2 separate regions of the Homo sapiens genome follow, and region 1 is linked to region 2. Evidence: fine-mapped QTL for protein levels in blood plasma. A gene starts in region 2. The other region holds a variant in brackets. All regions are shown on one strand. Distances are from middle to middle.

Region 1 (11,985 bases), 52 kb before region 2:
TGGGCAACATGGTGAAACCCCGTCTCTACAAAAAATACAAAAATTAGCTGTGTGTGGTGGTGCCATGCCTGTAGTCTCAGTTACTCAGGAGGCCGAGGTGGGAGGATGGCTTGAGCCTGGGAGGTGGAGGTTGCAATGAGCCGAGGTGGCATCGCTGCCCTCCAGCCTGGGCGATAGAGCCAGAACTTATCTCAAAACAACAACAAACAATGCAAAGTTAAATTTTTAAAAAATTGAAGAAGATGATATATTTTTATGGGCTATACTCAGAAAAAGCACAGGTTTTAGCTTTTGTGTGTGTGTCTCACTCTGTTGCTCAGGCTGGAGTGGAGTAGTGTGATCGCAGCTCACGTCAGCCTCAAACTTCCAGGCTCAGGCGATTCTCCCACCTCAGCCTCTCGAGCAACCGGGACTACAGATGCATACCACCATGCCTGGCTAATTTTTGTATTTTTTGTAGAGACAGGGTTTCACCATGTTGCACAGGCTGATCTCGAACTCCTGAGCTCAAGCAATCCTCCTGCCTCAGCCTCCCAAAGTGCTGGGATTACAGGTGTGAGCCACCGCTGGTTTTAACCTTAATAAGATCAAGAGATGAAGCATTATGAGTGATATAAACATACATCATGGTGGTGTTTAATGTTGATGAAGTTTTTTGTTGCTGAGAAGGTAAGAGTTCAGTAAAACGGGGAAGGGAGAGGGATGTGTTTGCACCTTTCTGTCAGCACAGAGGAGACCTTGGTGCTGCTTGTGAAAGGGCTGCGCCTCTACCTGCTGTGGGTCCAATGGGGGTCCTGGCAGCAGAGCTCCAGGGCAGCTAGCTGGGGATACTCACTCATCTTCCAATCTGATCCTGAGCCTGTGCTTTCCTGTCCCCAAACCAGACTCAGATACCTGCCAGCCACCTAGAAGCCAGATTGCTGGGGTGCCAATTCCAATCCTCCACTTAAAAACCAGGCAAGGCCGGGAGCGGTAGCTCACGCCTGTAATCCTAGAACTTTGGGAGGCTGAAGCAGGCAGATCACCTGAGGTCAGGAGTTTGAGACCAGCCTGGCCAACAAGTCTCTACTAAAAACACAATAATTAGCCAGGTGTGGTGGTGTGTGCCTGTAATCCCAGCTACTCCAGAGGCTAAGGCAGGAGAATTGCTTGAACCCAGGAGGCAGAGGTTGCAGTGAGCCGAGATTGCGCCACTGCACTCCAGCCTGGGCGACAGAGCGAGGCTCTGTCTCAAAAAATAAAATAAAATAAAAATAAAAAAATAAAAACTGGGCTGGGACCATGGCTCACACCTGTAATCCTAGCACTTTGGAAGGCTGAGGCAGGAGGATCACGAGGTCAAGAGATTGAGACCATCCTGGCCAACATGATGAAACCCCATCTCTACTAAAAATAAAAAAAATTAGCTGGGCTCAGTGATGGCAGGTGCCTATAGTCCTAGCTACTCGGGAGGCTGAGGCAGGAGAATTGCTTGAACCCGGGAGGCGGAGGTTGCGGGGAGCTGAGATCGCGCCACTGCACTCCAGCCTCATGACAGAGCGAGACTCCATCTCAATAATAATAATAATAATGATAATAATCATAATCATAATTATAATAACTGGGTGACCTTGGACCAGTAACTTGACTTTCTAGACCTCAGTTTTCTCATCTGGAATTGGGGATAATTACAGCATCTCTTCATAGACCTCCTGTGAGGGTTAAATTCATGTAAAGCCCACAGAATAGTGTCTGTCCCAGAGTAACTTAGGAAAAGTTGGCGATGATTCAGGCTGGAGTTGAGTTGAGGGAACTCTAACAGGGGAGGCAGAAAATGGTGATTGACTTCTGTGATGCCTCTGTCTCCTAGGTCTTTGGCTGGTTTTTGAAGCTGAACCCACCTGGTTTTCTCCTTCATCTGATGCAGCAAGAGAAATTTGGCCAGGAGGGGGCCGTTGGTGCAGACCAAGCATCCAGTGGGAACACACAGGGGTCAGCTACCTTGGATTCCTCCTCCCCACTTGGGGGTTCAGCTTCCCTATTTCCCCCAGGGACAAAGACCCAGCCAGGTCACTCTCAGGGATTCAGGGAAAATAAGCATTGTGTCTGGGGCATAAAGAAAGGCCAAGTTCTGGGCATGTGGCTGCAGGCATGTCTTACGGGACAGAGACAGCCCCCCCAGCCGAGGACTGGCCTCCCAATAACTCTGTTCTGCCTGGAGTGTCCTTGTGCTGGACTTCCTCCAGCAACCTCACCCTTACAGAAAAATAGGGATGCTTTTCTTGAACTTCCTCTTTCTATTCCTCCTTCTAAGTCAGGGACAGATGGGGTGGCAGGGGTGGGAAGTATACTGATCTGTTTCTTGTCACTGTTGCCCCTATGTCCTGATATAAAAACCTGGGAGTCTTGTCTTTTTGGTGAAAACTCAGTTTATTGCTACATTTTATTATTATATCACTCATTAAAATTAGCCGAAATAGGACTTTCCAGGACCTACTTAGTGGCCACATAGTCGCCTCTGGGAGGAACAAAGGGAGTGGCTGCTGGGTCCACAGAGGATGAAGAGACATGCAGGGCAGGGGTCTTTCAGAGCCACATCGCAAAGTGCTTTCTTCTCTTGAGACTGGACCAGGTGAGCCTGTAAGAGCCAAGGTGACTACAGAATAAAGTGAAATGTCAGCCCTGGGGGGAGGGGGGCCCAGAGGTCAGCTGCAGAGAAGGGGAAGAGGATCCTGCCTGGCCCCACCGAGAGGCCAGCCCCACATAAGTGCTTGAAGTTTGAACTCAGACAGAGTCGGGGTTGATGACCAAGACCCTTCTTTCATTCATCCACCCATGCATTTATCTATGTATCCACTTATTTATCTATGCAGCCAACTTTATTGAGTTTTGCTCCAGGCCAGGACTGTCTGGTGCTGAGCTGAACAGATCTGTAGGAAAGGAGTTTGGGACAGACCCATAGGATGTGGGTTTGGCAATTCTTTCTTTTCTTTTCTTTTCTTTTCTTTCCTTTCTTCCTTCCTTCTTTTCTTTCTTTCTTCTTTCTTTCTTTTTCTCTTTCTCTCTCCTTCCTTCCCTCCCTCTCCTTCCTTCCTTCCTTCCCTCCCTCTCTTTCTTTCCTTCCTTCCCTCCCTCCCCTTCCTTCTTTCCTTCTTTCCCTCCCTCCCTCCCCTCCCTCCCTCCCTTTCTTCCTTCCTTCCTTCCTTCCTTTTTCTTTCTTCAATTTGCCACATTGCCCAGGCTGGTCTCGAACTCCTGAGCTCAAGCAGGCCAACTGCCTCGGCCTCTCAAAGTGCTAGGATTATAGGCATGAGCCACCATGCCTGGCCAATTCTTTTATTTCTGAATCAAAGCCAGAATCAACCACTTCTCAACCTTTCTGGGATTCCTGGTGACTTTGTAGTTTGCCCTGTGTTTGTTATTTTTGCTAACCCCTGTTTGCCTATAGTTCCTGATGATCAGAAAAATAAGCAAACCGAGCCTACAGCAGGAGAAGGGAGATGTATGCTTGTTTCAGAGCCCAAGAGCGGAAGAGACCTGGAGAGGCTGCAGAGAGAGGAGTCCAGGGAGGGGGAGCCAGAAGTCAGAGCTCTCCTACCTGTCCTCATCCCTCCCCCATGACCATCATCCTCTCCCTAATGTCCCCAACCCCCTCCCACATCCCCTGTTCCTTTCTCCACCCCCTACTCCCTCTACATGTCCCCTAGCCTCACACAGGGGTTCTCATATCCCCTCCCCCTTGGGAATCTGGCCTTGGGCCTCCGGTGCTGGAGAACTTGGGCTGGGCCTGAGCACCCCCTCCCTAATGAGCATTCGTTCTGGGATGAGCTCTGGCCTCCCAGGGTCAAAGGTGGCAGCTTTATTTACTCACAGCCATGCTCTCACTGCCCGGCTCCTTTCATCATTTTTTTTTATGATGGAAACAGCCCAGTGGCCACAGGCGCCCTGGGGGACCACCCCACGACCTCCCCTCTCCCCGAGCCCCCAGACACAGACACTTGTATTCCTCCAATAAGGGCTCAGGTTTCTCAACAAAGTACAGCTTTGCTCTCAGGACAGTTTTCAGCTGTCGATTTTATCACATTCACATTCTGTTCAGAGCCTGAGCCAGAGAAGCTGGGAGCTGGCCAGCATGTGAGAGTGAGCACGTGTGTGTGAGAAGCAGGGCGACGTGGGGGCTGAGGGTGCAGGGTGAGAGTGGGCATCTGTGGGTGAAATCCCAGGTCCGTATGGTGTGTCTGCTTTAAGAATGTTTTCATGTGTGTGAGAACCTGTGTGTGTATAAGCATGAGTATCTGGGGACAAGTATTACATATATCCATTTACCCCCAAAATAGCATAGGAATACTGTTGCCTGCACTTTCCCCTACATGTGCCCATATGGCTCATCTCGCCAACTTGCCCCGTGCTCTTCCTCCTCTCTGCTCCTCACCCCTCCAGGTGAGGTGCTTCTGTGCAGGAGGCACGTGGATCTGGGTGGCCAGCCTCAATGTGAGACGCCTGTCCAAATCAAGGCTCTCCTCACTGCCGCAGCCCTCCTGCCCACCTCCACCTCAGCTTTCTTGGCCTCCTCACTGGAACTCATTGACCCCCTTCTAAAGCAGTGTCCTGGCCGGGCGCGGTGGCTCACGCATGTAATCCCAGCACTTTGGGAGGCCGAGGCGGGCGGATCACGAGGTCAGGAAATCGAGACCATCATGGCTAACATGGTGAAACCCTGTCTCTACTAAAAATACAAAAAAATTAGCCAGGTGTGGTGGTGGGCGCCTGTAGTCCCAGCTACTCGGGAGGCTGAGGAGGGAGAATGGCGTGAACCCGGGAGGCGGAGCTTGCAGTGAGCCGAGATCGCACCACTGCACTCCAGCCTGGGCGACAGAACGAGACTCTGTCTCAAAATAAGTAAATAAATAAAATAAAAAAAAATAATAAAGCAGTGTCCCTGGGGGAAAAACCCTGATCAGGGAGGAGTTAGCCCTCCAGGAGCCCCCAAGTTGGAGTCCTGGAAGGGGTCAGACCTCAGGTGTGCACACAAATGTGGCAGTATTGGAAGGCCAGCCACTCCACAGAGGGACAAAAGACTTATGGACGGAGGTCGTGGCTGCGGGGTATTAGGCAAGAGTGGCTTCTGGCTGATGTTTGCTCTAAAATTTAAAAAAAAAAAAAAAAGGAGTGGCTTCTTAGGAGAGAAAAGCCTGAAGAGGGCCTCTCTTTGGGGACCCTCCAAAGGTGGCCCTT[A/G]GTCACACTATTTAAACTCCCAGGATCTGATTTCTGAACCTGGAAAGCGAGAGAGAGCACTCTGGGCTCCAGCACCATCCCCGTGTGGTGTCTGTGCCTGCAAGTATCTATGTGTTCATGATTGTGTACTCGTGCCTGCGGGTGATGTGTTTGACAGTGTGTGCTTGTGTGATGAATACACACAAGCCGACAGGTGATGATTTCCCAGTGCGTGTGCTCATGCCCCATGGAGGGGGTATAGCGGTTAGGTCCCATTTTAAATTACGTTATCCCATGTGTCTCACAAGCCCTTGCCTGACCCTATGTCCCAGTTTTGCATTCAGAATCTCTGACTTCTGCAGGTCTCTGGGACATAGGGCCTACACTGGGAACGGGGCTGTGCAGCCCAGGGGTGGAGGTCAGCCTGTCTTAGCTCCCCCATCTCCCTCCAGGCTGGGCTCTGGCTCTGAGCACATTTGCACCCCTCCTCAGGCTGCCACCTGTCTGGGCGCCTGAGGAACCCGGCTCCATTCCAGGCCCAGGTCCCTCCTCCAAGTCAGGGTCCCTCCCACCTTCTCTCAAACCTGCTCAACCTGCCTGGCAGCCCAGCATCTCCCAGAGGTGCCTCCAGAGGTGGGATGCACTGGAACAGCCCTCCCAGCAGCATCAGAAGCAGCAAGAGCTGGGAGTGGGGTGGGTGGGAGGGCAGGCTGACCCTGCAGAAGAGGATGGGGAATTAAGCTTGCCACTGCTGCTGGAATGACACCTCTCTCTGACCTGAGCTTGCAGAGCCTCCCTTATAAACTGCTCCCGCCCCCGCCTTGCCCCTCCCTGCCCCTGGCTCTTGGATGGCCTCTGAGAGTGACCTACTTTTCTCCACCCCCACCCTCAGTGGTTCCCTCCTGGCTCAGCTGATATTTTATCTGAGTGACCCAGGGGCACAATGGGTATATTGCCACCCCCAGAAGTGTCCTGGAAGCATCGATGGTGGGATGCAAGCTAGATGTGTGTCTCTCCTCCACTCCCAGGGCTCCCTGTTAGGATGGGAGCTCTGAGCAAGCCCAGCTTCCTCAAGCACTCCAGATGCTCGCAGTTACCAAAGTTAAGTGTCTACAAACAGACTGAAAGGATGGACAGAGCCACAAAGCCCCTCTAATGGGGGAAGGGTCAGACAATGTTCCTCCTTTTATTATTATTATTATTATTATTATTATTATTATTATTATTAACTCCTGGCTTCAAGTGATCCTCCCCACTTGGATTCCCAAAGTACTGGGGTTACAGGCGTGAGCCACCGTGTCTGGCCACCTGCTCCTCCTGTTAAAGGGATGAGAAACATTAACATGCTCACGTAGATACACAAAATAAAAAACATTTGTTGAACACCTACCATGTGCTGGGGGATGTTCTAAGAGTTTTACATGACTTAGTTCACTTTAACCTTCACAGCAATCCTATGGAGTAGGTATTATCCCCATTTTATTTTTTTATTTTTTATTTTTTTATTTTAGAGAGGCGGGCAGCTTGCTCTGTCACCCAGACTGGAGTGCAGTGGTGCCCCACCATGCCTGGCTAATTATCCCCATTGTTTTTATTTATTTATTTATTTTTGTTCTGTGGAGATGGGGTCTCACTATCTTGTCCAGGCTGGTCTCAAACTCCTGGGCTCAAGCTGTCCTCCTGCCTCAGCCTCCCAAAGTGCTAGGATTACAGGTGTGAGACACCTGGCCTAATTGTCCCCATATTAAAGACAGAATGACTGAGACACAAAGAGGCTAAGTAACTTGCCCAAGATCATATCTCCAGTAGATACTGAATTCAGGATTCAAACCCAGGCAGCATGGCTACTGACAGCGTGCTCTTCACCACCGCTTTACAATATTTGCATAATTCCCCTGAAGGATATACACAGCCACTCATATTTAGGACAGGCCACCTCACATACATAATTGTGCATAGAAATACATCATTACCTAGTTGTTTATCATAACTAACATTTATACAGCAATTTATTTACAAATCACTTTCACACCCAGAAACAATGCCCAGTGAAGGATGGGTTGTTAACTATTTAACAGATAACAATTAAGACTACGTTTACTGACTCAACTGGGGCTCAGCTATTTGGCTGGGAGCGGTTCATCTTTTCTTTTCTTTCCCTTCCTTTCTTTAAATAAAAATAAAGCATGCTTCATAGTAAAATTAAAACAGGACAAAAGAGAATAAAGTGAAAAGTAAAAGGCTCCCTCCTTCCTCCTGTTATTCCCATTTCTGGAGGTATGCCCTTCCAAAAATTGTCAGTGCACACGTAAGTAAACAGTAATAGAGATTATACATGGCTTCTCATTCTTGCGAGGAAGTCTTTGTGGAGAACCCCTTGTTCTCCTCATTTTACACATTAAGAAATCTCTGGCCGGGCACGGTGGCTTATGCCTGTAATTCCAGCACTTTGGGAGCCTGAGGCAGGTGGATCACGAGGTCAGGAGTTCAAGACCAGCCTGGCCAAGATGGTGAAACCCCATCTCTACTAAAAAATACAAAAATCAGCCGGGCGTGGTGGCAGGCACCTGTAATCCCAGCTACTCACTCAGGAGGCTGAGGCAGAGACTTGCTTGAACTCAGGAGGCAGAGGTTGCAGTGAGCCGAGATCGTGCCACTGCATTCCAGCCTGGTCGAAGAGCAAGACTCCATCTCAAAAAAAAAAAAAAAACAAAACTCTTAAGAGTGGGGTACTGCGTTTTATTTTTATTTTTTTTTGAGATGGAGTCTCGCTCCATCCACAGGCTGGAGTGCAGTGGTGTGATCTTGGCTCACTGCAACCTCCGCCTCCAGGGTTCAAGCCATTCTCCTGCCTCAGCCTCCCGAGTAGCTGGGATTACAGGCATGTGCCACCACACCCGGCTAATTTTTGTACTTTTAGTAGAGATGGGGTTTCGCCATGTTGGCCAGGCTGGTCTTGGACTCCTGACATCAGGTGATCCGCCTGCCTCGGCCCCCAAAATACTGGGATTACAGGCGTGAGCCACCGCGCCGGCCCGGTACTGTATTTTAACAAGCTCTCTAGGAAAAAAGTGGCATAGCTCTCCAAGGCCACTCAGGTACTAAATGGAAGTTAGGATTTCAGCCCAAGTCTTCCCGACCTGGAGCCCATGTCCCCCACTGCCCTTGCCCCAGGGCCCATTGCCTCCTCCATCCCCTGTTGGCACCTGCTGGCTCAACACCCCTAGAGCCAAGACTCTGCTGCTCTGAGCCTTTCAGGGTAGGGCGAGGGCCGCGCTGGAAAAGGACATTCCCTTTGGAAACTTAATCTAAGGGAGGACTTGCTGAGCTAAGCCCTGCTGAGGGGGAGGCCAGGGAGCAGGCCTGGGGACTTGACTGAGACCCAGATCAGCCAAGGGATGGGCTCCCAGGATGCCCCCTCAAGCCCCCGGCAGGCTTCACTGCGGCCTTGAGGGCTATGGAGAGTGGCAGGTAACAGGCCTCAGTCTCCACAGTAGCTCCAGCCAGGGACTCAGGATAGGGAGAGGAGGCGGGGTCTGGGGCTCCCAGGGAGAAGAGGGGCCTGTAGATGAGAACTGCAGCCCCCCAACAACATCCGCCTCTGGGAGAGGGACTGAGCGGGGGCAAGAAGAGTATCATTTCCAGCTTCTGGGGTGAAAGGGGGCTCTGGAAGCCCCTGCCCCTGCTGTGACCCCTCCTGGGTAAGTTTCCCCAAGGGCCGCTCAGACCCGTCCTCAGCTCTTCCATTCAGGGCCTGGGTCCCTGGCAGGGCTGGGACCTTAGGAGACAAAATTGCTAAGACTCAGCCATAAACCCAGCTGCTGAGGATGTATGTGTATTTGTTACGAATGTCTCCAAGTGGCTGGCCACAGTGGTGCCACGGCATTCTGACCCAGGTGGCCTAGGCTGGTCATGCAGGACTTTGCTGGGTCTTGCGTGCCTCAGGCCTGGACCCAGTCCTCACACCTCCCGTCCTAGTGTGGAATCTGGAGAACAGGCCAGGGCCAAGGCCAGGATGGAACCTATCTTCCCCCAGAGGACACTTTGGAACAGGGTACTCAGTGAGGTGCCCCCTTCCTATCTGGCCAAGAGGGAGCTTGCCAGGAATCAGGGATTCCTGAGGTCAGTACTCGGTGGAGGGAGAGACAGCCACGGTGAGACTTGCAGAAGCCAGAGGGAGACTGAGATTGGACTCCTCTCTCCACAATTTCCAGGCCAGGCCAACCCAGGGGACAAGGCAGGCCTCCCTGAAAGCCCACCCTCTCCCTCCTTGGTTCATGGCAGAGCCTCCCCAGTCCCTATCACCTTAAGGATCATGCCTGCACACCCTAACCTAGACATGCTACCTTTGAAGCGCCACAGCTCTGTTGTGATCAAGGTGGGCCTGCATGGGACACCCCGCTTCTCTCTCGGATGCAGTAGCACTGCACTGGGCATCAGAGGGCATAGGACTGAGCATAAGCTCAGCTTGGCTTCTAACTGACTGAGGGATTTTGGACAAGTCACCTCCCTACTCTGAGCTTCAATTTGGCCACCTGTAAAACATGAGAGTTGAACTTCATTTCGAATCGTGGGAATCTGGGTTTGAGCTGGGGAGTGTGGGGTTGGCCATGGGTGTTCTTCTTGGTGAACAGAGCAAGGAGCAGAGTAGAGACCCCTAGGAGATATTACTGGTCAAGAAGAGAAGATGTATGTGTATTTGCTATGAGTGTATTTATGATCATATATAGTATGTGACGTGTACATATACATGTGGAAGCATAAATACACATGTAAGGGTGTGTGTGTGTGTTTGTGTGTGTGTGTGTGTGTTTACGGCAGCAGCTAATTGATCCCTGCCTCCCAGTTGCTGTGGGGGAAGGGGCCGAGAAGGCAGTCACTCATTAGAGGCAACTAATGGGCCCAAATGGCCTTGTCAGCAAAGGCTGAGCTTAGATGAGCTTCCTCCCGAAGTGGGGAAGGAAAAAGATGTGAAATAGAAAAAGGAGGGGAGAAGAGAGCAAAGAAGGCGGGCAGAGGCCTCAGAAAGAATGAGGCTTCCCCAGGAGAAACTACAAGGATTGCAGTATCCTCACTTTATCCCTGTTAATAAATATTCCTCCTGCCAAGAGAAAAAGTTCCTGCTTTTTCTGACCCAAGGAAGTAGAGGGCAGAAAACTGTCAAGGGAAGAAAGGCAGACACATGTGTATTCCCATGCCCACAAGCACAGGTGTGCTAGCTGCATGCATATGGCCACACTGAGACGCAAGCATGTGGGCTATGTCGATGTGCAGTCTCAACACTTGTCATGCACGTGCTTACCCAGAGACACCCCCCCCACACACCAGCCTGAGCATAGGGAAGTGTGGGCATGTGCCTGGCACGGGAAGGTGTATGCGCATTCACCCAGGGGTGCTGGCTCTGTGTTGGTGCAAGGGAGACAAAAATGAGGAGGACACAGTCCCTGTCCCCCAGCTGACATTTTATTTTATTTTATTTTATTTTATTTTATTTTATTTTATTTTATATTTATTTTGTTTTATTTTTGAGATGGAGTTTCGCTCTTGTTGTGCAGGCTGGAGTGCAGTGGCATGATCTCGGCTCACTGCAACCTCCACTTCCTGGGTTCAAGTGATTCTCCTGCCTCAGCCTCTTGAGTAGCTGGGACTACAGGCGTGTGCCACCACACCCATCTAATTTTTTTGTATTTTTAGTAGAGATGGACTTTCACCATATTGGCTAGGCTGGTCTCGAACTCCCAGCCTCAGGTGATCTGCCCACCTCAGCCTCCCAAAGTGCTGGGATTACAGGCGTGAGCCACCGTGCCTGGCCCTCCAATGGACATTGTAGTTGGGAAGAGGTTGCTTGCTAAGGAAACGGATCATTTATATGATGACACAGGGTGTACTGGAAAGATGCCCAGCGTGACTGTAGTCCCCGCTACTTGAAGGGTGACATGGGAGGATTGCTTTAGCCCAGGAGGTCAAGGCTGCAGTGAACCCTGATGATGCCACTGTACTCCAGCATGGGCAAGAGGAGGAGACACCATCTCTAAAGAAAAAGAAATTAAATTAAAATAAAATTGTGTGTGTGTGTGTTTGGTCTGTCACCCAGGCTGGAGGGCAGTGGCAAGATCATAGCTCACTGCAGCCTCGAACTCCTGGGCTCAAGCAATCCTCCCACCTCAGTCTCCAGAGTAGCTGGGACTACAGGCACACATGCCACCATGCTTGGCTAAATTGTTTATTTTATATTGTGTAAAGATGGGAGTCTTGCATGTTGCCCAGGCTGGTCTCAAACTCCTGGCCTCAAGCAATCCTCCTTCCTCGGCCTCCCAAAGTACTAGGATTACAAGCATGAGACACTGCACTCAGCCAAAATACAACACATATTAATAACCAGAATTAAGAATTTCCAACACATTAATAAGAAAAATATTTTTGAAACCCCAGTTTTTAAAATAGGCAACTGGGCACGGTGGCTCACCCCTGAAATCCCAGCACTTTGGGAAGCTGAGGCAGGTGGATCACCTAAAGTCAGGAGTTCAAGACCAGCCTGGCCAACATGGCGAAACCCTGTCTCTACTAAAAATACAAAAATTAGCTGGGTGTGGTGGCAGGCACCTTTAACCCAAGCTACTCGGGAGGCTGAGGCAGGAGAAGCTCTTGAACTTGGGAGGCAGGGGTTGCAGTGAGCCCGGATCGCCCACTGCATTCTAGCATGCATGACAGAGTGAGACTTTGTCTCCAAAGATAAAAATAAAAATAAAATGGGCAAAGTATATGAAGAGGTGACTTACAGAAATAAAAACA
Region 2 (11,211 bases):
GGGTAGGCAAACACTTCACAGCCAAAGATCACATCCTGCCCTGTCACATTCCAAGTGTCATATGGATGTGACACGATCTGGGGCCCTGGGGGTGAAGGCGGGAGGTCTGAGAATAGCATGGCCCAGCAAAGGCATCCAGTCTGGCAAAGACATGATACACAAATTTTTGTGGACATGCTTGTGGCAGAACACAATATATGCTGAGGTAAATACACATCCATAAACACACCGTGACACACACAGGTACACACAGATATGGATGCTGGTACACACAAGGGTACCACGCAGACGTGGAGATAGGTATACATGCACATGTGCACATAGAACCTCATGCAGACCCAATGCACAAACAAGCACACACATCTACATTGTAGCTTGGCAGCCACTCTGTCCCTAACTGCTCCCCTGTCCTCATTTCACCCTCCCCAGCCTTTCCTGCGTGCCTGTAATCAAAACCTTCCAGATCCCCCTTCCCCTTTTCTAAACAGGCCCAGTTCCCAAAGGAGGAAAAGCAGCCGTTCCCTCCTCAGTACCCCCTGGGGGAGTCCTGCGGCAAGGCAGAGAACCTGAAGCTGGACTTGTGCGACAGGCAGGAAGCCTGCAGGAGTGGAGGAAATTGCTGGGACCCCCACGGGGTGTTTGTTTTCTGGCTGCCCCAGCCGAGCCAGACGCAGAGCCCGGGCTCAGGAAGTGAAAGTTACTAAAGCTACCAAGGAAAGCTAGAGGCCTGAATGGACCCCAGTCCCCAGGGATAGAGAAAGAACTTCCCGCTCCCCTTCACTAATCCCTAAAAGCAGGAGAAAGCAGAGAGGTGGGGAGACTGGGTGAACAAACTGCTCTAAGAATGAAACGTGATTGCATCTCACAGGAACCCGTCTTGCTGCCTGGACTCCACTGGTCTGGGAAAAGTCGGGGGGGTCTCTGAGCAAACCATAGGTTATGTGCCTGCGCCCTCAGAGGACCTGTCTCTCCCTGCCAGCCAGCTCTGGAGCTTTCACGTGGTTCAGCGAATGCAGCTTGCTGACGAAGCCCGGGACTCCCACTCCACTCCACCCCCCACCCCCACCTTAAGGTGGCAGCTTTTATGAACCAGTAGCGAGAGCAGGGTTTTATACTGGACTCGAGGCCTCTATAGCCTTATCTTTTTTGCTCTGCTGGCCAGAGACCAATGCTGTCAGGGGTCGGGGAGCAGTGCCTCTAGGAAACCTAAGTGCTGGGGTGGGGGCCCCGGGCCATGCGTACCCGATTCGCAGGGCCCCGGGTGTGCCACAGTGAGGTTGGCATCGGGCCGAGCGCGGGCCGCCTCCTGCAGGCGGCAGATCTGGGAGTAGGTGTGACCGTCGGACCCGCAGAGCGGACTCTGCGAACGACAGGCACACAGAGGTTCCGGCACCTCTCCGCGGCTCAGGTCGCCGCCTGTGTCCAGCCGGCACTCAAGCTGCTCGCCGCAGTGCCCGTAGAAGTGAGCACTGGGGTCCAGGTCGCAGAGCTGGCCCTCGAGGTTGGCGCATTCCCAGCAGCAGCCGCACGCGTCGCGCACCCTGCCCGCCAGGCAGCCCCGCGGCGCGGCGCACTCTTCTGGCCGGCAGGGAGCGCAGCCCTCGCCCTCCGCTAGCAGCCGCATCCAGCCGCGCCGCAGGTAATCTGGGCCTGGGGATGGCCTTGCGCCGGTCGGGGGCGGCGTCAGCACCACCAGCAGTAGCAGGAGCACAGGCAGCGCCAAGGCAGCTGCGGGCCGCGGCGGCGGCAGCATGGTTAGCGGGAAGCCCTGCGAGCACTCGGGGCATCAGCGCGTTCGGGCACCCTGCCAGGAAGGGAAGCCAGGTCAGGAGGTCAGAAACAGGGCCTGTGCCGAAAGACCAACCTCACTGCTTCTTGTACCAAAGCATGACACTAGCATCGCCCCCTCCCCTGCTACCAAGTAGCCTCCCCCAACACACAGGCCTAGTGACCCTCTAGGGATTATCCAGTTATGGCAGTTAGCAATCAGTTGGGCTGTTCTTGGGAGGGCTGGGAGTGAAGAGAGGTGAGGAAAGGGTGATAAGGCTCAGGCGCACGCACACCCACCACCAGCACCACTTCCGTGCACCACCCGACTCCGATCCCTGGCCCCTGAGCATCCTTGCCCAAAGAGAATGGGTGGCTCCAGAAGTAAGAAGCTGCTAATGGGGGGTGAGAACTGGGGGGGCTGATGCCGCCTCGCTTATGGCCTGGGGCACAGAGTGCTCACCTAGTGTCCGGAACTAGACCCTTCGCAGCAGCCGTGATTCGAGTCCGAAAGAAAAGGTTATGGAAAGAAAGCAGAGGCGCAGTCAGCCGGGCCCGCCGGCCACCTCTGCTCCGTCCTGAGGACTTCTGAGAGAGCCCACGAACTTGGATTCAGAAAGCAGCTCCTCCGGCCCCCTCTCTCCGCCCCTCGACTTCGCGCACCCGCCTTCCCACTAGTTCTAAGGCTGCCAATTTTATGTAGCCGCATGGGACCCTCCCGGGTCATTTCCCCCAGCCTGGCCCAAAGTCACAATGCGAGCAGAGGAGCCGTAACCAGACACCGAGGCTGGGAGAGAGGAAGGGGGTGAGGACCGGAGGCGGGGAGTGGGGGTAGGAGTTTGGCTGGGAAGCTCAAAGTGTTGGCTGAACGGCTAGGCCCTGTCCCATCTGATTTTACAGTCCCTGGCGTCGGCGAGGGCAGCTGCATAAGGGGGAGGCGGCAGGAGCTCTGGTGCCAAGTCATTTTACGTCGATGTCGGGGCGCTCCTGGAGGGCAGGACCAACCACCTTCGTCTCCCCGCAGCCCAGGGCTGGTTCCCGGGAGCGACCGCAGGCTTGCCCACCCAGCTGCCCCACCAAGGCGCGGACAGACTGGGCGCCTACATCCGCCTTCCCTCATCTGGCCTCCTTCTTCCTCCCCACATCCGGCAGGTGCTGCGACCCGCGGGTGAGCCGGGTGATTCGAGGTCGGAGCCGACCAGCGGCCGCAGGGAGAGGCGGGCTGGCGCCTCCCCGGCGGGCGTCCCTCGGGTCGGGATTACAGGTTACGGTTGCGAGGCTGGCAGGGCCGGAGACACTCGGCCTCGCGGCCGCCACCACCGCCACCGTGGCACTTTGGGCCGGGGGCGGGGAGGAGAGCATTCCTAGGGGCCCGCCAGCCAAACCCGGGTCGGGCAGGCCCCGCCCCGGCCGGCCCCAAGCGGCTCACAGAAGCCTTGGCGCAGTCCAGCTCGCGGGGGGATGGGCGAGGGTGGGGGGCAGAAATAGCAATCTGCAGCCGGCAAGGGGGCGGCACTTAGTCAGGCTCCGCCCACAAGACCCGGCTGCCGTCCCCGCCCGCCTGCGCGGGATCGACTCCGCATGCGCACTGGAGCCTCGGAATACAGCCAGGACTCTCCCGTCGGAATGCGCCCCTAAGTTGGGCCAAGCCCATTCATTCAGGGGCTCCCGAGCCACGTAGGCGCCATCCCTGGCCAGAGGGGTTCTGAGGAGGTGGGCAAGGGCAGACACTCTCTCCCGGTCTCAAATTCGAAATAGGGACTAGAAGGGAACTTCACGCGAGGCCTCGCAACTGTCGCGAGAATCAGAACAGGAAATCTAGGAACCGAGAACACTAAGAGCCCGCGGATTTTAAACAGGAAAAAGAAAGGGCGGAGCAAACTCTGGCGGATAGTTGTGAGTAATCCCTGGTCCTTGGAATAAGTGTCGACCTGAGACAGAAGGGGAACTGTCAGAGAGCTGCCGGAGACCCTGAAAAAGGCCAGAGACGGGGACTTGTGGGGCTGACGAATGGAATCACCCAAGGAGAGGTCTCTGACTCTAACAAAACACCTTGGGGACGGAGCTCCTTGGCTGGGATACAGAGCAGACAAGTCCGGGATCTTTTAGTGAATTGCTGCCGGCTTCTAAGGCCTGGAGCAGATATTCAACAACAAACTCCACGGACCTAGAAACTCTCCACTTATCCTACTATTGTAGACGGTGGCTTACTTTTAGTCTTCCCTATGCTCTAAGCTTCTGGTAGTAGGAATCGTGCCTAACTCACTACTGTATCTTGTGAACCTAGCCCCGCGCCTGGTGGCACGTCAAATTCTCGGTAAATATTTGTGGATTAAATGTGAAAGACTGCCTGAGTGTTTAACCTGGATTTTCTGAGTCGCTGATGGAGAACAGTAGGTAGACGGGGAACCAGCGCCCTCTGGTGGGCTTGTGGTTCGTGACGAGAACATGCTGGAACCGTGCATCCAGGTAGGCACAAAGATAATAAAAGGGGATCCGCTGTTATTAAGTAGAGATTTTGTTACATTAAAACCCTACATACCGTAAAAATGCTTTTAGAAGGGAGTTTTTTGAATAGGACACAACTTGAAAGTTTAGATACATTCCCCGATCCTCAACATCCCATACTTTATCCATCAAGGCTCCAAAATATTCAGTAACACCTATGCGCATCATACATAGTAAAGAGATAGCAAATGATTTTGCGTATATATACTTTGAAAATGTTTACTCGGTTTTGTGCAAAACAGGCCAAAGGGAAGGGATTTTCTAGCCTAGATGATGTGAATACTGCTAGGGAGAGGAGCCAGGTGGCAGCATCCTTTGCATTTAATGAGGGAGACTAGATCCAGATGGGCAGGGTGAAGTTGAAATTTGTTGAATAATAGATGGTCCCGCCTCTTTTTTCCCCTTTTCCTGCAGATGCTTGTATTGAAGAAGGAATGAGGTATAGAATGTAGTTTTCTTTCCACTGTGAAGCCCTGTGTTCACAAGATTATCATACGTTCACTTTCAGTCACTGACACATGAAATAACTGAAGTATAATGACAGAATGATGAGCTGGAGTGTGGTGGTGCACGCCTGTAGCACCAGCTACTTGGGAGACTGAGGCAGTAGGATCCCTTGAGCTCAAGGGTTCGAGAGACCATGTCTCTTTAAAAATAGAAGTTTAGGGCCAGGCGTGGTGGCTCATACCTCTTAATCCCAGCACTTTGGGAGGCGGAGGCGGGTGGATCACCTGAGGTCAGGAGCTTGAGACCAGCCTGGTCAATATGGTGAAACCCTGTCTCTACTAAAAATACAAAAATTAGCCCAGCGTGGTGGTGCACGCCTGTAATCCCAGCTACTCAGGAGGCTGAGGCAGGAGAATCGCTTGAATCTGGGAGGCAGAGGTTGCAGTGAGCCCAGATCACGCCACTGCACTCCAGCCTGGGTGACAGAGCAAGACCCCCTCTCAAAAAATAAAAATAAAAAATAGAATTTTAAAAATAAAAGAGTGAAAAGAGCCCTATACAGATGAACAACAAAAGATGAAACAAGGCATACAGTCATTGTTTAATTTGGTAAAGAAAAGAAATTACTTCAAATGATCCACATATTTCAACCTGTCACTTCACAAACCCTGTTTTGACACAGCTGGTGAAAATAGTAGAGTTGCAACTTTGAGGAAGAAGCAGGAATGAAACAAATGGTCCATACTGACCTATTAAAGACGGATATGGAGAAATTGTGCTTCCTGTGAATATTAGAATTGGTTGATTAAAAAAAAAACCTCAACATAGATAATTAAAATGGAATACTTTGTAGCTACCAACTATGACAAATAGGTAAACTCAAAATAATGTATGTAGGAAACAAAGTGAAAAGTATGTATGGAAAAATAAGGTTAAGAGAAAAGAAGAAGTATATGGATACTGATCACAACTGTATGTGTATTTATCATCTATATCATCAATAAACATCCTAAGAGAATTTGGAATGAGGCTAATGGTTGAGTGTAATACTCACTACTGCTTTATAAGTTATTTTTCCTTTTTTTTTTTTTTTTTTTTGAGACAGAGTCTAGCTTTATCGCCCAGGCTGGAGTACAGTGGCGCAATCTCAGCTCACTGCAACCTCGGCCTCCCGGGTTCAAGCGATCCTCCTACCTCAGCCTCCTGAGTAGCCACCTGGCTAATTTTTTTTTTTTTTTTTTTTTTTTTTTAAGTAGAGACAGGGTTTTGTCATGTTGGCCAGGCTGGTCTTGAACTCCTGACCTCAAGTGATCTGCTCACCTTGGCTTCCTAGTAGAGGCTATTTTTATAGGTAAATTAGAATGTCAAGATAAATGTAGCAAAGCTGGGGTGGCCAGGTAAAAAGATTGGCTGGGCACAGTGGTTCATGCCTGTAATCCCAGCCCTTTGGGAGACCAAGGTGGGCGGATCACCTGAGGTCAGGAGTTCGAGACCAGCCTGGCCAACATGGCAAAACCCCATCTCTATTAAAAATACAAAAATTAGCTGGTTATGGTGGCGCATGCGTATAATCCCAGCTACTTGGGAGGCTGAGACAGTAGAATCGCTTGAACCCAGGAGGCGGAGGTTGCAGTGAACCGAGATCGCGCCACCACGCCAACCTAGGTGACAGAGCAAAACTCCATCTCAAAAAAAACAAGAAAAGAAAAGAAAAAGGAAAACATAATTCAGCTATAAGTAGTGTTACAAAATGAAGACTGGAATAGCCAGGAACTGGCTTTCTGGAATACCTAGGCATTAAGGCAAGTTGAATAAGCTTCAGGACATCTAAATCAGGCCTCAGTCTACCTTCGTATATCTCAAAAGGCAATCCCTCCCCCTAACACCCACCTTCAGTATCCCATTGACCCTTGAAATGGTGACTGTAGCTCCATCCAACCTGATGACTTGGCCAAATGTTATATTGATAAACTTAGAAAAGATGCTTAAATCATTCCACATGTACATTGTTTCTACATTTCTATTTCTTTCTTTCTTTTTTTTTTTGAGACAGAGTTTCACTGTTGTTGCCCAGGCTGGAGTGCAATGGCACAATCTCGGCTCACTGCAACCTCCACTTTCCACGTTCAAGCAATTCTCCTGCCTCAGCCTCCCGTGTAGCTGGGATTATAGGCATGCACCACCATGCTAGGCTAATTTTGTATGTTTAGTAGAGACAGTGTTTCACCACGTTGGTCAGGCTGGTCTTGAACTGACCTTAAGTGATCCACCCACCTCGGCCTCGCAAAGTGCTGGGATTACAGACGTGAGCCACCGCGCCTGGCCCTTTCTACATTTCTTGTTCTCATTTTGTTTTTAACTTAATTTCATTATGAAGTATAATAGACAAGCAGAAAAGTGCACAAAGTAGATATATGGTTAAATTAATTATTACTAAATGAACACTTGTGATTATCCAGGTCAAGAAACAGAACATTGCCAACACCCTCAGAAGCCCCCATCATGCCCCTCCCCGATAATTTTCCCTCCTCTTCTCCCTAGATAACCATTTTTTTGTTTGTTTTTTTGATTTGTTTGTTTGTTTTTGTTGAGACATGGTCTTTCTCTGTTGCCCAGGCTAGAGTGCAGTGGCGTGATCATGGTTTGTTGCAGTCTCAAAGTCCTGGGTTCAAAGGATCCTTCCACGTCAGCCTCCCAAGTAGCTGGGACTACAGGCACACCACCACACCTAGCTAATTTTTTTATTTTTATTTTTGCAGAGACAAAGTCTTACTATGTTATCCAGGCTGGTGTGGAACTCCTGACCTCAAGCAGTCCTCCCACCTCAGCCTCCCAAATTGCTGGGATTATAGATGTGAACCACTGTGCCTGGCCAATAACCACCTTTAACTCTATACTTTAAGTTTACCTGGTTTTGACATTTATAGAAATTGGGACATGCCTAGGATTGGAATTACTGCTTCATGTGATATGCATATTCAACATTAGTAGATTTTCTTTTCCTTCCTTCCTTCTTTCCTTCCTTCCTTCCTCCTTTCCTTCCTTCCTTTCCTTCCTTCCTTCCTTCCTTTTCTTTCTTTCCTTTTCTTTTCTTTCTTTCCTTCTTTTCTTTCTTTTTTTTTCTTTTCTTTCTCACAGGGTCTCACTCTATCTGGGCTAGTCCCAAACTCCTCGGCTTAAGCAATCCTCCCACCTCAGCCTCCCAAAATGCTGGGATTATCAACATTAGTAGATATTACCATACACTTTTTCCAGTGTGATGTATGAATTTATATAGTCTTCAGCAGTTGATGAGTTTTCATTATGCCACATCCTTGCCAAGAGTTGGTATTGTTGTTGTTCTTTTAAATTTTAGCCATTAGGTAAAAATTTTAGAGCCTAAAATTTTTAAATGGCCAGTTCTGCAAGGATTTCCTCTCTTGGATATTTTTTTAAAAACCTTTTATTTTGAATTTTAGACTTGGATAGAAGTTGTGAAAATAGCAAAGAAATTTCCCATGTACCTGTCACCTAGCCTACCCTGGTGATAACATAATATCTTATATAACCATGATATAATTATCAAAACCAGGAAATTGAAATTTATACAGTACTATTAGCTAAACAATGGACCTTATTTGGATATCACTGGTTTGATATTACGTGTGTGTGTATAATTGAAATTTTATTGCATGTGTAGAGTTGTGTGACCATGAGGTGAGTAAATGGGTCTTCAGGGGTATGACAGGGTAAAACTGATGCCAAGGGAAAAGCTAGTAGACTCTATAGTACTAAACACAATGTCATTTAATATATGAGTAGCTTTAAAATTATTATATCAAAAGTCAGTGATAGGAAAGGCAGCTAGTTACGGTAGCTAAACACACACAGCTGGGTGCGGTGACACATGCCTATAGTCCCAGCTACTCAGGAGGCTGAGGCAGGAGGATCACTTGAGTCCAGGAGTTCAAGTCCAGCCTGAGTGAAATAGCAAGACCCCGTCTCTATAAAAACAACAAAAACCCACTCTCACACATTTGCACACTGTGCGTCTACCTGTTGGGGGAGCTGTGCACATGGGTAAAGTCCCAGGGTCACTGGTTGAAGTTCACTTTGCATTATGACACACTCAGAAGGAAAGATAAGTTTCTGCCCTTACATCCAATTTTACTTGAAGACAACTTTCTGTAGGTGAGGCCAGTGAGATAACTTTCTGCTGACACCCCACAGCATCCTCGTTCCTTCTGCCGGACTTCCAGATTTCTATTTCTGGCCCAAACCTCTCTCCTGAACATCACTCCATGGATTCGTCTACAACCACTTCTAGTATTTTCTTCCACAGCCAGGGAAGAAGTCCATAAACAGCTCCCGGCTACATCATACTTAGGACGCCCAGAAAAATGTATCAGTATATCACATCTCAGGGAAACCTTTTATTGACTCTGTTTAGGTGATGTGCTCAACAATAATTCACCACATGGCCCAGGAGCCACCACCCTGGACCACAAACCCCATAGCAGATGCAGTCAGTACCTCACTCATATACCCTTGGCTCACTCCAAAGGTTACCTGCAGATAGTTCCTTTATGACCCGGTGTGTCTGTCTGTCGGAGGGAGTTCTTTAGCCCCTAGAGTCAGCTTGGCTGACATGCAGGGCAGGCTGGAAATGCTGTGGAGGTAACAACTCAGGAGCAAGCCACATCCGGTGAGGAAAAACAATAGAGGACAGATAATCCTGTTCCTTACCCTTCAGTGGGATAATTTTGAGGTGTGTTCTCCACAGTTTTGCAGAAGGCTTAGAGAGACTGAGTCACAGTTGTCCTCAGTGGTAACCTGCTCATTAATGCATCCTTTATTTGGTTTTCCTCCTCTCTCTGACTTCCCTTCCCCCTCACTGTGTTTTCTGGGATAAACTCCCAAATAAACTACTTGTACCAAAATCCTTGCCTTGGGATCTGCTTTCTGGGAAATCAAAATTAAGACAACCCCTGTAAAGGGAGGAGGCCATCTTCCTGAGTGCCCCATCAAGACCACAGGGACCAGGGGGAGATCTTAGACCCCAAAACCACATTGTGACAATATCTTTGCTGACATCCCACTTTATTTCCTTCCTTTTTTTTTTTTTTTAAGAGATAGAATCTTTTTCTGTGGCCATGGCTGGAGTGCAGTGGCATGATCATAGCTCACTGCAGCCTTGAACTTCTGGCGTTAAGCAATCCTGCCTCAGCCTCCCAAGTAGCTGGAACTACAGGTGCATGCCACCACACCTGGATAATTTTTTTTGGTAGAGACAGGGTCTGGCTCTGTTGCCCAGGCTGATCTTAAACTCCTGGTCTCCCAAAGCACTGGATATCCCACTTTTTTCTTCTTCTTCTTCTGTTTTTGAGACAGTGTCTCTGTCACCCAGGCTGGAGTGCAATGGCACGATCTTGGCTCACTGCAAGCTCTGCCTCCCGGGTTCAAGCAATTCTCCTGCCTCAGCCTCTTGAGTAGCTGGGATTACAGGCACTTGCCACCATGCCCGGCTAATTTTTTTGTATTTTTAGTAGAGATGGGGTTTCGCCATGTTGGCCAGGCTGGTCTCGAACTCCTGACCTCAGGTGATCTGCCTGCCTCGGCCTTCCAAAGTGCTGGGATTACAAGCATGAGCCACTGCACCCGGCCTGGATATCCCACTTTCAACCTTTGCACTTGAGAAATAACAGAGTCTAGTGTTGGCTTCTGTGGAGTGTTGGGACTCCCCTCAGCTGACCAGTTCACTGAAACTAAGGAAGAGCCTGACAAGTGTATGCTCAGAACTCCAAGCAAGAAACAGTGGGGGCTTTCTCAGGGCTGATGGGAAATAAAAAGGACTAATTAGCTAGGAACTACTTGGCTTTTAAGCAACCAAACCACATGGAGAATCTCAGGTCCCAGCAGAGCATCAGAATATGATTCATAGAATGCTGTGCATGTATAAAAGTTCATAAGCATTCCATGTCAACATACTCAGCCTGCCAAAATCCAGAATTTTTTGTGCCTTTTCTATCATTTTCCCCAAGGGTAAGATACAAGAAGAGAGGTAGCAAAATGTCACAATCACAGGACCAGGAGCAGTGGCTCATGCCTGTAATCCTAGTGCTTTGGGAGGCCAAGGCAAGAGGATCACTTGAGGCCAGGTGCCTTGGGCACATAAGGATACCCTGCCTCTACCCCCCTCCCCAAATAGCTTAGCATGGTGGCCTGCACCTATAGTCACAGCTACTTGGGAGGCTGAGGTGGGAGGATTGCTTGAGCCCAGGAGTTCAAGGCTGCAGTGAACCACGATTGTGCCACTGCACTCCAGCCTGGGCGACAAAGCAAGACCCCGTCTCCAAAAACAAAACAAAAAAGTGGCAATCAGGAGAACTTCCCAACAAACCTGCTGGATCTGTCCCCCAGTGTGGGGGATACAGATGGGAAATCTGTTGAGTAGAATTAAATAGAAGTTGATGAACTAAAGAAGTGTGTAGAATTTGAGGGCTCTAAATT

Direction of the effects. Alleles are on the strand shown, and positions count from the first base shown. The strength of an association depends on the size of the effect and on how common the allele is.
For the plasma level of the protein whose gene starts at base 2,357 in region 2, allele A in region 1 goes with a lower level than allele G (weak association).

What was found. A credible set is the group of variants that fine-mapping cannot tell apart. PIP is the posterior inclusion probability: the model's chance that the variant is causal. The UK Biobank Pharma Proteomics Project read protein levels with antibody pairs (Olink). The fine-mapping took linkage between variants from a reference panel, not from the people measured, so its PIPs are less certain.
Region 1: its variant is the best candidate, but not a certain one, in a credible set for the plasma level of the KAZALD1 protein (UK Biobank, PIP 0.60).

Annotation. Positions count from the first base shown.
Region 1 is chr10:101,105,105-101,117,089 of GRCh38, reverse strand. The region is part of intron 2 of TLX1NB (TLX1 neighbor); the gene reads left to right. Among named protein-coding and RNA genes, the nearest start is that of TLX1NB, 20 kb to the left of the region's middle. The variant A/G (reference allele first, on the strand shown) is at 5,215.
Region 2 is chr10:101,053,135-101,064,345 of GRCh38, reverse strand. KAZALD1 (Kazal type serine peptidase inhibitor domain 1) reads right to left here and starts at 2,357. Exons shown (of 5, transcript NM_030929.5): 1 at 2,231-2,357; 2 at 1,243-1,804; 3 at 1-85. The coding sequence starts at 1,753. It overlaps LOC107984262 (a long non-coding RNA gene), which reads left to right and starts at 3,595. Exons shown (of 2, transcript XR_001747569.3): 1 at 3,595-4,236; 2 at 4,690-5,751. RefSeq lists silencers at 1,643-1,692, 2,873-3,292 and enhancers at 1,605-2,493, 3,420-3,714.